Homo sapiens: one gene and its partners. Changing the gene in region 1 together with any one later gene gives a genetic interaction. Each region holds a gene or a part of one and is shown on either strand. Other genes may lie near its edges.

What was found. A genetic interaction does not mean that the proteins touch.
Region 2: changes in MAPKAP1 (region 1) and SSBP1 together harm fitness more than expected from each alone (negative genetic interaction), as found in Homo sapiens cells (one large-scale study listed by BioGRID).
Region 3: changes in MAPKAP1 (region 1) and COX16 together harm fitness more than expected from each alone (negative genetic interaction), as found in Homo sapiens cells (one large-scale study listed by BioGRID).
Region 4: changes in MAPKAP1 (region 1) and CACTIN together harm fitness more than expected from each alone (negative genetic interaction), as found in Homo sapiens cells (one large-scale study listed by BioGRID).

What each region holds. Positions count from the first base shown.
Region 1 is NC_000009.12:125,697,209-125,700,855, reverse strand, and holds part of MAPKAP1 (target of rapamycin complex 2 subunit MAPKAP1), read left to right. Parts: intron 1-3,647. UniProt on the Homo sapiens protein: Component of the mechanistic target of rapamycin complex 2 (mTORC2), which transduces signals from growth factors to pathways involved in proliferation, cytoskeletal organization, lipogenesis and anabolic output.
Region 2 is NC_000007.14:141,748,345-141,751,122, forward strand, and holds the end of SSBP1 (single-stranded DNA-binding protein, mitochondrial precursor), read left to right. Parts: intron 1-1,966; coding exon 1,967-2,010; 3' UTR 2,011-2,144; downstream 2,145-2,778.
Region 3 is NC_000014.9:70,356,750-70,360,984, forward strand, and holds the start of COX16 (cytochrome c oxidase assembly protein COX16 homolog, mitochondrial isoform 1 precursor), read right to left. Parts: upstream 2,935-4,235; 5' UTR 2,839-2,934; coding exon 2,770-2,838; intron 1-2,769.
Region 4 is NC_000019.10:3,620,157-3,623,803, reverse strand, and holds part of CACTIN (splicing factor Cactin), read left to right. Parts: coding exon 1-116; intron 117-3,001; coding exon 3,002-3,097; intron 3,098-3,531; coding exon 3,532-3,647. UniProt on the Homo sapiens protein: Plays a role in pre-mRNA splicing by facilitating excision of a subset of introns. Required for the splicing of CDCA5/Sororin, a regulator of sister chromatid cohesion. Involved in the regulation of innate immune response.

The DNA of each region.
Region 1 (3,647 bases):
CCCAGCCCAAGAGTTTAATTTATTTTTATTTTAATACCCAGCTTTCACAAGGTGAAAATTGAAGAAATACTGGTCTTGTAGATACTTGTTTTCATTCATACTCTATTGTATAAGGAAATAACAGAATATAAAAATAAAGGGAATAAATCCTGAGCAGTCATTCAAAATTTATTAACTCTAGTTGGCAGCAGTCTAGATATATTGGGGAAATGGATTTAATATAGGCAACACAAAATTTGGACTGAAAGTAGAATACAGTTTTATGTAATTGAAAGTGAGAAAAATGGGAGAAACCACTTAAAAAACAAACCCGAAACTCTAGAAAGAACAAGAAGGTATTAGAATAACTATTGGAATTAAGTTATAGTAATTGCTTGTGAAATAAGTGGAATATTATGTCACATTTATGCCTAAATATAAGCAGTGTTAGATTCTTAATATCCTATACGTGAGTATACTTTTATGAATATACTTTTATTATTGATGCAAAGTGTACTGAATGTGTAAAACTTCAAAAAAAATAACATTTTCCAGTTCCTTATGGACTCATTTTAAGGTACTGTGTTATAAATAAGTACCATTTCAGCAGAGAAATTGGTAGAAAATTGTTTGAAGGAATGGTTTTCTTTTGAAAATAAAGCGAGTATTTAATCTGAACCTTAGTTACTGACATAAAGGAGACTAACGAAGAACTGAAGTGCAGACTTGAATTTTAAGCAGTGTGACATGGGGCTTTGGGCAGACCCGCTTGGATTTGATTATTGGCTTTGTCAGTCTGTAAGCTGGACAGTCTGCAAAATGGGGACAGTAATGCCAATCTCACATAGTCCTTAGTGAGGACTAAATGAAACAATATATGTAAGTACCTTGTAAGTACTGTAGTGCTTCTGGAGAGATGCAGGTCCAGGCTGAGCATCCCTACTCAAAATATTCAAAATCTGGGCCAGATTTGCTGGCTCACACCTTTAATCCCAGCACTTTGGGAGGCCAAGATGAGTGGATTGCTTGAGCTTGGGAGTTCAAGAGCAGCCTGGGCAAAATAATGAAACCCTGTCTCTACAAAAATATTAGCCAGGCATGGTGGCGCACATCTGTAGTTCCAGGCTGAGGTAGGAGGATTGCTTGAGCCCAGGGGGCTGAGGCTGCTGTGAGCCATGATCACACCACTGTACTCCAGCCTGGGCAACAGAGCAAGACTGTCTCAAAAAAAAAAAAAAATCAAAATCAAAAATCCTTCAAAATTCAAAACTTTTCGAACTGACATGATGCCACAATTGGAAAATTCTATGCCTGACCTCATGTGACAGGTTGCAGTTAAAACTTTATTTCATGCATAAAATTATTAAAAATACTGGCTGGGTGAGGTGGCTCATAACCAGCAATCCTGGGAGGCCAAGGTGGGAGGATTGCTTGAGTTCAGGAGTTAGAGACTAGCCTGGGCAACACAGCAAGACCTTGTCTCTACTAAAAATCAAAACAATTAGCTTGGTGTGGTGGTGTGTGCCTGTAGTCCCAGCTACTTGGGAGGCCGAGGCAGGAGGATCGTTTGAGCCCGGGGTGTCAAGGCTGCAGTGAGCCATGATTGTGCTCCTGCACTCCAGCCTGGATGACAGAGGGAGACCCTGCCTCAAAAAAGAAAAAAAAAGTTAGTATAAAATTACCTTCAGGCTATGTGTGTAAAGTGTATATGAAATATAAGTGAATTGCGTGTTTAGACTTGTGTCTTATCCCCAGGATACTGCATGATATATATGAAAATATTCCAAAATTCAAAGAAAATCCAGAGTCTGAAACACTTCTGGTCCCAAGCATTTTAGATAAGGGATGCCAACCTCTAATGGCATTCAGGGCATAAGACATTCAGGATGTTAATATGATGTAATAAGCAATGATTTGATGGAGTGGTCATAAAAGAGTGAGACTCATTTTCATGTCTGGATCATGAAATTTGTTAATTTCTGTTGTGTTTTGTAAATTAGTGCACCTACATACTGTATTGAGAGAAGGACTTTAGGATGCTGTTTTTAAGCTATTATGTGAATTGATCTGCTGAGTAACAAGAAACACTTCCAAGTGTTTATATTATCTTTTTTGTGCCTGTAACTGCTCTTTGTTAGAAAAGGGATATTATGTTATCCCCGTCCCCATTTTACAAATGCCGAAACTGAAGCTTAGAGAAGTAATGTAATTATTAATAAAAATATAGAGCTACCGGGCCGGGTGCGGTGGCTCATGCCTGTAATCCCAACACTCTGGGAGGCTGAGGCAGGTGGATCACCTGAGGTCAGGAGTTCGAGACCAGCCTGGCCAACATGGCGAAACCCTGTCTCTACTAAAAATACAAAAATTTGCCAGGCGTGGTGGCACACACACGCCTATAGTCCCAGTTACTCGGGAGGCTGAGGCAGGAGAATTGCTTGAACCCGGGAGTCGGAGGTTGCCATGAGCCAAGATTGCGCCATTGCACTCCAGCCTGGGTGACAAGAGTGAAACTCCATCTCAAAAAATATATATATTTTATATATATATATATATATATATATATATATATATATATATATATATATTTATATATATTATGTATTATATATATTTATAAATTATATATTTATATATTTTGAGATGGAATATATATATACACACACATATATATACACATATGTGTGTGTATATATATATACTTTTTGTATATACGTATAGAGAGAGCGAGAACGCGCATGCGTGAGTAGCAAAACTAGGACTTGACCTTTGTTTTGACTCAGAGTACTGAAAAGCACTATTACTTTTTTTTTGGAGTTGGGGGTCACTTTTCCATGCTGCTCTGGATTTGGATATTGGGACTGGCCCTGTCTTGGGACTGTCATTAATTATGGCCCTTTGCCTTCATTTAAACTTAATGTTTACAGAAAGTTATTATTGATTATATTGTGAGAGTGTTTGATTATAGGTATAGTGTTATGATATGAAGCTTAAGGATTTGATGAAAATACTAATACTCATTGATAATAAAGATTGGTGGTAAGATGGTAAGATGGTTACTCATATTGATAGTGGGAATGTAAATGAGTAAAACTTTTCTGGAAAGCACTTTGGCAGTATTTATTAACAAGCTTTTAAAAAAAGTTATGCATGCCTTTTGAGCTTGTAATTCCATTTCTAGGAATCTTTATTAAAGAAATCAGAGATGTCGAAAGATATTCGTGTTCAAAGATGTTCACTGCAGCAGTATTTAGCAAAAATTAGAACCTTAATGTTCAATAAAAATTAGAGAAATCATGGAAAATTCATAGAATGGAAATAATATACAGTCATCTTAGATGTTTCAGAAGAATTTTAGTGACATACTAATATGCTAACCATATAATAAGTGAAAAAAGGATATGACACTCTATAAAGTATGGTCCCAATTATGTCAAACATGTATGCAAAGAAAAGAAATAGGTGGTGAGATTATAAGACTTGATATTTTTCTCAGTTTTAGAAATGTTCTTTGATAAACAAATTATTTAAAAATAAATCATAGTTTAAAATTGATATTAACAAATATGAGTAGAGTCAGTGACCATCATTTTAACCAATAGTTTTCACTAATGCAGGTGATTGTGAAGTTGTAAATGGATTGTATTTTCAAGTTAGTTTTCACCTCT
Region 2 (2,778 bases), on another chromosome or scaffold:
ATACATTATATTACATGATTTCTACCTTAAGTCTCTTAGATTTGCCTTTTATCTTTCTTCTTTCCTTTGCTCCAGAGTTCATGTCTTAACCACCATACCTTATTAATAATTTATAATTTGTATAGAATGCTCACATGGTTTCTTACTGCTAAGTTTCTTTGAAAGTGTATTAACCTTGAAAAGCAGTGTAGGTATTTTCCTACCCTCCTGTGGGTCCCAATATAAACCACAAGTGTGGGCAAACTTTAGATTGTTCGGATTATTGAGTTGTTACTAATAAGCCAAACGGAAGCATTTCAGATGATATGCTGTTTTGTTTTTTTTCCTTGTCACTAGGTTCCACTAGCACAGTCAGTTTACTTTAGGTTTATGTCTAATGGTAAAATTGAAGAGCTCTTCAGTGACATTTGAATTGAAGAAAATAGAGTTTATTGGTTGATCTGTTTTATTGGTGATTTTTTTTTCTCCTAGGGATCCTATCTGTAACTAAAAAACCACCACCAGTGGATGGCACTCTTGGCTTTTTCCACAGTGATATTAATTCGAGTAGTTTGTTCTGAAGTAACCGTTCTGGACCAAAACATTCTAGTTTTTGGAAGACTATGGTCATGAACAAATATTCAGTCCTTGGTGGATAATTTTATAGTTACAAGAATCTTTTGGAATTATAAAGGAAATGCAGTCATTCCTCCATGTCCCTTGTTTCTGCATCTGTGGATTCAACCAAGCACAGATTGAATATATGTGAAAAAAAGAAACCAATAAAAATAATACAACAACAACAAAAATACAAGTGAAACAATACAGTGTAACAGCTGTTAACATAGCATTTACCTTGTATTAGATATTGTAAGTAATCTAAAGATGATTTAAAGTATATAAGAGGAAGTACATAGGTTATATGTGATTACTATACCATTTTATATCAGGGACTTGAGCATTGTGGATTTTGGTATCTATAGGGGTCCTGGAACCAGTCCCCCAATGGATACTGAAGGATGACTACTACTTGCCTCTGTTCTTTTGTTTATTTTTAGCTAACTCCCTCTGGAACAGCATTTTAAGAGCAACGTCTGATATTTTTGGATAAAAATGCTAACTCTGTGATGTTGATTCATAAAATGTTCCCAAGAATTGGTATATTAAAATTATTCTGGGCCAGGTGCGGTGCTCATGCCTGTAATCCCAGCACTTTGGGAGGCCAAGGCGGGCAGATCACTTGAGGTCAGGAGTTCAAGACCAGCCTGGCCAACATGGTGAAACCCTGTCTCTATTAAAAATACAAAAGTTAGCCAGGCATGGTGGTGCACACCTATAATCCCAGCTACTGGAGAGGCTGAGGCAGGAGAATCGCTTGAACCCAGGAGGCAGAGGTTGCAGTAAGCTGAGATTGCACCACTTCACTCCAGCCTGGGTGACAGAGACTCCATCTCCAAAGGAAAAACAAAAAGTTATTCTGTATTGTAATTTAAAAATAAAATTTCTTCTATTTGAATTTTTAAAGTTAAAAACGTAAGTAAATCCTGTCATTGCTAACAGGGCCACATATGGACTCTTACTCTTTCCTCTAGACCCCCAGAGTGTAGAATGTGATACACTTTTGTCCTTTTCTCTGAGGATGTGCTGCCTAGTGTCGTGGAATCTGCCTGACCATTGCAAGCATCCAATTTTGTGACCAGTTCTTTTGCAGGAAATTGTTTCTGAGAAGACTGGAAGACAAGAAATATCCCACCTCTTCTAACAAGATCTGAATTGTTCGAAAAGCAGCCAGTGCCTAACTTGTAGCTCCACTTATGCCAACTGTATATATACCTCTCGTGAGCATAGCAAGTGATTTAATATTTTGAAAAGATGGCTAAAATCCTTTTAATGAACAGCACTAAAGTTATATGTATTAGAGGAGAATTATTGAATGAGATGGAGAAAGAGTTCTGAAATTAATATTTACATTTTGGCTTTTTTACAGATAATATTATATTTCTGAGTGACCAGACGAAAGAGAAGGAGTAGAAAGGATGATTCTTCTTTGGCCATCATTTGGTACAGTCTCATTTCCAAGTCATGTATAATCTTTATGGCTTCCAAGGACAAGAATTAAAATACTCTTTTACGTAAAATGAGTAATAATCTTTTTTCTGACTGTCGTTCTCGCTCTCCTTTTTGTGGTATAATCTTGGTAGCTACTATCTGTTATGGCATTTACTAGTTGTTTATTCTTCTAAGGGTGGTTTCTATGTACAGGTATACAAAATAGTAAACTTTCAGGCTCATTTGTGTTATGGCAAAGGGATAAATATGCTTTGGGAAGGTCTCCTGGTTTTTGTATACACTTTTATTACAATATTGATTTGTCCAATCAGTGAATTTACTGAGCATCACTGTATGTGAGACATTTATCCCATATTTGTAAATATTGATTTTCTTAACGTTTTGCTCTGTAGACATGAAGGCAAGGACTGAATCTTCTGTTTGCCTGCACTTTAAACCATGCTTTACATAGAATAGCCACTCAGTAAGCATTGATAGATGAATCATCCCAATGGGATTCTAAGCTTCAGCTCAAATTGAAGGGAGTTGCTGAGCAGTGGTTAGTGTCTAACCTAAACATCTTTAAGACTAACCTACCTTCTTCATATCTTTTGTTTTTGGACAGTTTCATTAGTAGCATTGATGAAACATAGTTTACCAGCAATAAGGACCTGAATAATTAGAGATGAAATCGTTCATCTCCAGGTGATGCCACAGGAGCTGTAGTTCTGTTCTTTCTCTGCCCCTGTT
Region 3 (4,235 bases), on another chromosome or scaffold:
CTTTCCTCCACAAAAACGAGAATATTTGTAAAAAATTGTCAAATAAACTTTTTTAGAACTCTGAAAATTAAGCAAAAACTTGCAACAATGTGCACAGTATTTACCTAAGAAAAATGCCTGAATCTCAGGAAGAACAGCTTGGTGGCATTTTTAATTTGTCATATTCTCACCCCTCCACCCAAGCTCCGTAACAACCATGAAAACCAACAGCCTGCAAACATGATGTAAAGCCTGGCACCAAGTGAAGAGGGTAGAGAGGTTGGAGCTCTTTAAAACACCATTCTGTGAGAAATGTCATCATTTCACCAGTCTGGTACTTCCTGGAAGATGCTATTCACAAAGCTCTCTGTAGTTTACCTGACATGGAGCTCAACTAGTATGAACAGACTTCTCCTAGGAAGCGTTTGTCAAAAAAAAAAAAAAAAAAAAAAAAAAAAAAAAATTCAGAGGTAATTGTTTAACATTATGACTGTCTGATGTGGTAGATAATAGGAATAAGGTGTCCTTAGAGGACTCTGAAAAGCTCAAATATATTCCTGAGAATTTAGAAAGTCATGCAAATAACTAGAACTGTGTACATGCCCAGAGCAATGTATATGCCCAAGAAAGACCTGAGAAGGCCCTAAATTCTCAACTTATGACTAATTTGAAGCTCTGAGCAAGTAAGAAGTGAAGGCTATACATGGAGCTGTAAATTGCATGGCTGAATGTTGAAAGCATGCCCAAAAAAGCATGCAGAGCCTCTCGACAAAGACTGGCAGATTTGTTGGTTTTGGGTTTTAAAGAAACCTCTGTCCAATAAAAGGAAACATAGTCCAATTAAAAAATGGGCAAAGGATTTGAACAGACATTTCTCCAAAAAGATATTCAAATGACCAATAAACATTTGAAAAGATGCTCAACATAATAAGTCGTTAGGGAAATGAAAATCAAAACCACAATGAGGTATCACTTCACACCTACTAGAAAGGGTAATAATTCAAAAGATGGACAATAACAAGTGTTGGCAAGGATGTGGAGAAATTGAAAATCATATCTTGCTGGTGGGAATGTAAAATGATGCAGCCACTTTGGAAAACATCTGGCACATCCTAAAAAGTTGAAGAGTTACCATATGACCTAGCAATTCCACGTCTAGGTATATTCCCTACCTGAGAGAAATGAAAACATACTTCCACACAAAGCGTGTACATAAATGTTCATAGCAGCATTATTCATAATAGTCAAAAATTGAAACAACCCAAATGTTCATCAATTGATAAAATATATCCAAACAATGGAATTATATCCATCAAAAGGAATGAAGTATTGATATATGTTACAATGTGAATGAACCTTAAAAACATTCTAAGTGGAAGAATCCAGTCACAAAAAACCCACGTTGTATTAGTGTGTTAATATGAAATGTGCAGAATAAGCAAATTTACGGGTAGAAGTAGATTAGTGGTTTACCAGGCCAGCATTAAGAGGCAGGAAGAAATGGGAAGTGACTACTATTAGTTATGATGCTTTTTTGGGGGCAATGAAAATGTTCTAAAATTGTGGTGATGGCTCCATAACTAAGAATATACTAATATACGAATATATTAGTATACTAATATCGAATTTGCTAAAAACAACAATTTTTTTTTTTTTTTTTTTTTTTGGAGAGACAGAGGTCTTGCTGGTTTGGAACTCCTGACCTAAAGCGATCCTCCTGTCTTGGCTTCCCCTAACACTGGGATTACAGGTGTGAGCCATCGTGCTTGGCCCAGATACTTCAAATGGGTGAATCTTTTGGAGATTCCTAAAATCCACATTTGATGAATGTGGATTTTTCAAAACTGTGTAAAATATCCATTACCTTTCTAAGATCACTTCTTTCCTTTAGTCTGCTTAAATGGAAAAGCTGGTAATTTCATCTGCGCCAACATTCATACAAAATAAAAATATAGTCTGTATTTAAAAGCAGCTTTTGTTCATATGCTTTAATTATTTCATTTACTAACACATCAAGGCTTGCTGAAGCAAAATAACTGGCCCGTAATCAAAAAGCAAATAAGAGTCATCTGGATTTCAACTCTGGTTGTCTTAAGCCAGCCTCAGCCTGCATTTCATGACATCCTTAGGGAACTCAGTGTGGATATGGATGAAACCATATAAACACGGAAGCTGTTTTCAACGTGCTTTAGAAATTATAACACAGCAATCATTCTGGCTACAATGTGGCAGGCACCGTACTCAACACTTTATTCACAAGGTGTTATTAGTTCATCACAACTCTAAGTATTAAGCTAATTCACAAACTAGAAAGATGAAACAGAAAGATACCAGGAATTCGTGCAGTTAAATGGAATACATCTAGTCCCAATGATCCACAGTATCGTCAAAACATAGCTAAGTTGGGGGCGAGGAAGCAAGCTTAGTAATCATCCAAACTTGGCTTAAAGTGTGGTTCTGACTGAATTCTCTGAGCTTCAATTTACTTAACTGTGAATCAAGGGTAGTAACAATGACCGCGTTCGACGATGGGAAAGACGCCACGCTCACAAGCAGACAGATCCTAGTACACCTGAAATCCAACCGGGAGTGGGGGACAGCGGCGGGGAAGTGGGGGTGTGGAAAAGACTGGTGGAAGAGCTTTTAGGAAAGCTCTCACCCCGTCGCTAGCTCCTTCCTAGCCCGAGTGCCAGCCCTTAACTTCACATTTTACAGATTCCCTCCCAGGTCTTGATCCTGCCAAGGAGGAGGGTCCCACCCCTTGCGGAAGATCCTCCTCACTCCACTCACCAACATGGGGACTCCATAGCCGAGAGTCTTGTTCTTGCGAAAAGCACGCATCACCGCGGGTGCAAACATGAGTGAACTCTTCCATCGGCTCAGAACTCCAAGCGGGCCTAGCGCAGACTCCCAAATCTCAGCAGCTCACGCTCTCACCAAGACGAGTACGTCCTTAACTCACTTCCTTTTCCTTGGTTATTTGGTGCTCGGTCCTTAGTGAATGGTTTCCGCTAGGCAAAAGCAATCGAGCCATCGTAACATACTTGTGCGTCCGCCCAGAAATGTGGGCGTCAGCGTTTTTGGTTCCGTAACGTCGGCGTGCAATTGGGATTTAGAGATTTGAATCGGTTTACGATCACCACCAAATTGATCTGGAAACCAGTACTTCCCACGTTCTGGGTCCTAACTAACGTCTGCTTAGAACACTCCCTTAGGCACATAGCCACTCGATAAAATCAGCTAAGGAAAAAAGTATTTTGAGGCCGGGCGCGGTGGCCTGGGTGGGTGGCCTGTAATCCCAGCACTTTGGGAGGCCGAGGCCGGTAGATCACCTGAGGTCAGGAGTTCTAGATCAGCCTGGTCAACATGGTAAAACCCCGTCTCTATTAAAAAAAAAAAATACAAAAATTAGCCGGGCGTGGTGGCAGGCGCCTGTAATCCCAGCTACTGGGGGGCCGAGGCAGGAGAATCGCTTGAACCCGGGAGGCGGAGGTTGCAATGAGCAGAGATCGCGCCATCGCACTCCAGCCTGGGGAACAAGAGCGAGACTTCGTCTCAAAAAGAAAAAAGAAAAAAAAGTATTTTGAAGCTGGTACTCCAGTCTTTATGGCTATTTGTGGGATGAGGAATTTGCCAGTTTAATGGAGACTTTTAAAAATAAATCGCTTTTGAAAGATTAGGTTGAAATGTAATCAGTGTAGTGTCTCATCAGTCATTACTGAACTTTTAATGCTAATGATTTTACTGTGAGATAACCTGTAATCTTTAGTCATTTATGAATGTCTATTTACCAATGATTCAGCAACCATACAGGCCACCTTTCAGCGTGTCTTTGAAAGGGTTCTAGGAACACAGATAAAAATATATGATCCTTACCTTAAAGACACTGGCGATTTCATGGGCACAGAAACAAACATGTGTGAAGTACTGGGATAGCTTAGGAAGCCGATCCCCCACGTGTCCCATTTACCAGAGTGAATCAGAGTGCAGGTGATGCGGAATATTATCTTCCATGCTATTCCTGAAATATTTCCATCTGTCCCTGCCTCTCTGTTACCACTGAAATGTTCCTTTTTTTAATTCCTTATCATCTTTTCACCTATTAAAGTAGCCTCTTAAGTGGTCTCCAGAAGAGAAGCTCCAGATCTACTGCAGGCTACTCCAGTGAAACTTATCCTTTTGGCTAAGATCAAGTGTAGTATCTGTTCTTAACAGTTTAATATTTGACACATTCTCTATCCAAGGAAAATATGTTA
Region 4 (3,647 bases), on another chromosome or scaffold:
CCAAGGAGCGCAAGAAGCGGGAGAAGATGGGCTGGGGTGAGGAGTACATGGGCTACACCAACACCGACAACCCCTTCGGAGACAACAACCTGCTGGGCACCTTCATCTGGAATAAGGTGGGCCCCGCCGGGTGGTGGCCTCTGTCCCTGTAGCATTTCCACTGTTTCTGGAGACCCCAACACTTGAGACACTCCCAGCCTGCCCTTGATCGTGCAAGAGTTGGTTTTACACACACACGCATAAGCAAGCTTCTGCCGCTATCAGCTTTCTTTTTTGACACAGGGTCTCGCTCTGTCGCCCAGGCTGGAGTGAAGTGGTGTGATCTCGGCTCACTGCAAGCTCCACCTCCCGGGTTCATGCCATTCTCCTGCCTCAGCCTCCTGAGTAGCTGGGGCTACAGGCGCCCGCTACCACGCCCGGCTAATTTTTTGTATTTTTAGTAGAGACAGGGTTTCACCATGTTAGCCAGGATGGTCTCGATCTCCTGACCTTGTGATCCACCCGCCTTGGCCTCCCAAAGTGCTGGGATTACAGGCGTGAGCCACCACGCCCGGCCAGCTTTCTTTTTTGACTCAGGGTCTCGCTCTGTCACCCAGGCTGGAGTGCAGTGGCGTGATCGTGGCTAACTGCAGCCTTGACCTCCTGGCCTCAAGCGATCCTCCTACCTCAGCGTTTTGACTTGCTGGGACTACAGGCACCACCACCATGCCCGGCTAATTTTTTATTTTTTTGTAAAGATGGAGTCTCACTATGTTGGCCAGGCTGGTCTCGAACTCCTAAGCTCAAGTGATTTTCCCACCTCGGCCTCCCAGAGTTCTGGGATTACAGGCATGAGCCACTGCGCCCAGCCCACCGTCATTTTCTTGCCATTAACTGTGTCTCTTGCGGTGTAAGCTTCAGCCATTCTTTGCCCCGAACACCAGCCCAACCTGAAACCTATCTAGAGAGCCAGCTCTTGGCATCATGTACCCAGGACAGGGTTCCACAGTTCCAGGCGCTCTGTCGTCTGAGCTGGTTCTTTCGTTCTGCGCCTGCCATTTAGCCACCAGTCACACCAGTGGCATAAGACAACAGAACTTATCATCTCTTCGTTCTGGAGTCCAGAAGTCCAAAATCAAGGCGTGGGCAGGTGTGGGCAGGACCCCACTCCCTCTGGGGGCCGAGGGGAGGCCCCTCCTGCCTCTCCCAGCTCCAGTCATGGCCGGTGATTCCTGGGCCCTCCCTGGCTTGCAGCCGCAGAACCCGGCCTGTTCCTGTGTTGTGTGGCGGTCTGCCTTCCCGTCTCTGTCTCCATACGGCCTTCTGCTCTGTGTGTCTGTGTGTAAATGTTCCTCTTCCCATGAGGACACCAGGCATTGGATGAGGGCCCGCCACCTCCAGGATGACCTCATCTTACCTACGTCTGCAAGACCTCATCACTTTTTTTTTTTTTTTTTTTTTGAGATGGAGTCTCACTCTGTTGCCCAGACTAGAATGCAAAGGCGCAATCTCGGCTCACTGCAACCTCCGCTTCCTGGGTTCAAGTGATTCCCCTGCCCCAGCCTCCCAAGTAGCTGGAATTACAGGCGGGTGCCACCACACTCAGCTAATTTTTGTATTTTTAGTAGACAGAGTTTAACCATGTTGGTCAGGCTGGTCTCGAACTCCTGACCTCAAGTGATCTGCCCGCCTTGGCCTCCCAATATGCTGGGATTACAGGTGTCAGCCACCATACCTGGCCAAGACCTCATTTCACATGGGGTCATGATTACAGCTGCAGGGGTTCAGACGGGGATGTGCCTGTGGGGGACACAGCTCATCTGAAGCAGCATCCACTTGTGGAGGGGGTGGAGCAGGCAACGTGTGGGCTGGGCCGACTGCACCTGCTCGCCGGTTGCGCAGTTGGGAGCTGTGGGGTCTCCAGGTGGCTTCTGCCCGATGTCGTCTGAGAACACAACGAGCTCCTTCCGCCTCGGGGCCCTCACACTGCCGCGCCCCTGCCTGGACATGCTCTGCCCCTTCCCCGGCTGTTCTCTTCCGTCAGGCCTCAACTGACACATCCCCTCTTGAGAGACCCCTTCCTGGCCCCTTGCTCCCCAGACCCCCCAGAGTTCTTTATTGAGGCACACACTGCTGCCTGGCACTTCATCGCCACCATGTGCTGTGCACCTGCGGTGTGCTGGGCACCACCGTGAGCTCTGGGCGGGCAGCCATGGAGGAGGAAGATGTGGTCATCGTTGACGCCTGTGGAAGCGGCCCCAGGCTGGGTTGGATAGACCACAGAGTGGCCCGGGTGTCTGGGGGTGGTCCCCAGCCAGGCAGCCTGTGTCCCTGGAGGCAAGTTCTGGGCGGCAGGGGTTCCTGGAACCCCCTCATGGCGACGGGGCACCGGGAGCCTGAGGAAGGTGGTCGGGAAGTGGGGGCTCCGCGCCAGGCTCTCAGACAGCTGCTGGAAGAAGCCAGCTTTGAGGGTCTCCAGGCTGGGACAAGCCCATCAGTGGCCACCCCTGTGCCCCGCTGTGTGGGCGGGGCCCCATGACCCCACAGGTTTGCTTTCAGAGCTGCTGCTGCCCCCACTCACTGTTCCTGCCCTGTCCCACGTGCAGTGGGGGACCCTGACTTGCTGAGGGCGTGGCCTTCACGTCCGAAGCACTCAGACTCCCGGGTAAAGCGAGTCAGCAGGCCCCGAGCAAGGCTCTTCTGTTGGGGGCTGGGGTGGCCCCGAGCAAGGCCCTCCTGTTGGGAGTTGGGGCGGCCCCGAGTGAGGCCCTCCTGTTGAGAGTTGGGGTAGCCCCTTCTTACCCTTTGCATACATCTCACTCCCAGTGGGGGCTCCATGTCTGCACTGAATTGGATGCACTGGGTTTCAGGAGTGTTAAGGAGGGGGTGGAAGACGTGCAGTGCTGGCAGGTCACCTCTCTCTGCAAAACAAGGGCCCTGGTCAATCTCTTGGACGAAGGAGCTGAGGAGGGGGGCGAGGGGGCGGGTCTGTGCTCAGGGCAGGTGTGCCTGGTGCTTCCAGGCCCTGGAGAAGAAGGGGATCAGCCACCTGGAGGAGAAGGAGCTGAAGGAGCGGAACAAGAGGATCCAGGAGGACAACCGGCTGGAGCTGCAGAAGGTAGGCACCCTGCCAGCCCACTGGGCAGGGCCCTCCCTTTCCAGGGCCTGGAGGCCCGCCCCCTTTGGCAGGACTTGAGGGGCTTAAGTGGGAAGTCCTGGGGGCTGGCTTCAGGTAAGGCTGGATCCAGGGGCTCAGACCATGGCCCCAGGAAACTGTTTCCCTCCACCTCTCGGCTCTGCTGGCCTCGGGCCTTCACTCCCACATGCTCCCTTCAGGGTGGCCGAGAGGGCCCCAGCTGATCTGAGCTGCTGAGTCTCGGGCAGGAGGGCCCTCTCCCTTCCCAAGGTCTGTCCACCAGCCCAGGCATCTCCGGACCAATCCCTGTGCCCAGGGCAGCTGGGTGAAGGCTGGGCCCCCATCATCACAGCCCCTCCCCCCGCAGCCCTGCAGACCGCACGGTCCCCGCTGCCCTCAGCCTCCTGTGCCTGCAGGTGAAGCAGCTGCGGCTGGAGCGGGAGCGGGAGAAGGCCATGCGCGAGCAGGAGCTGGAGATGCTGCAGCGCGAGAAGGAGGCAGAGCACTTCAAGACATGGGAGGAGCAGGAGGA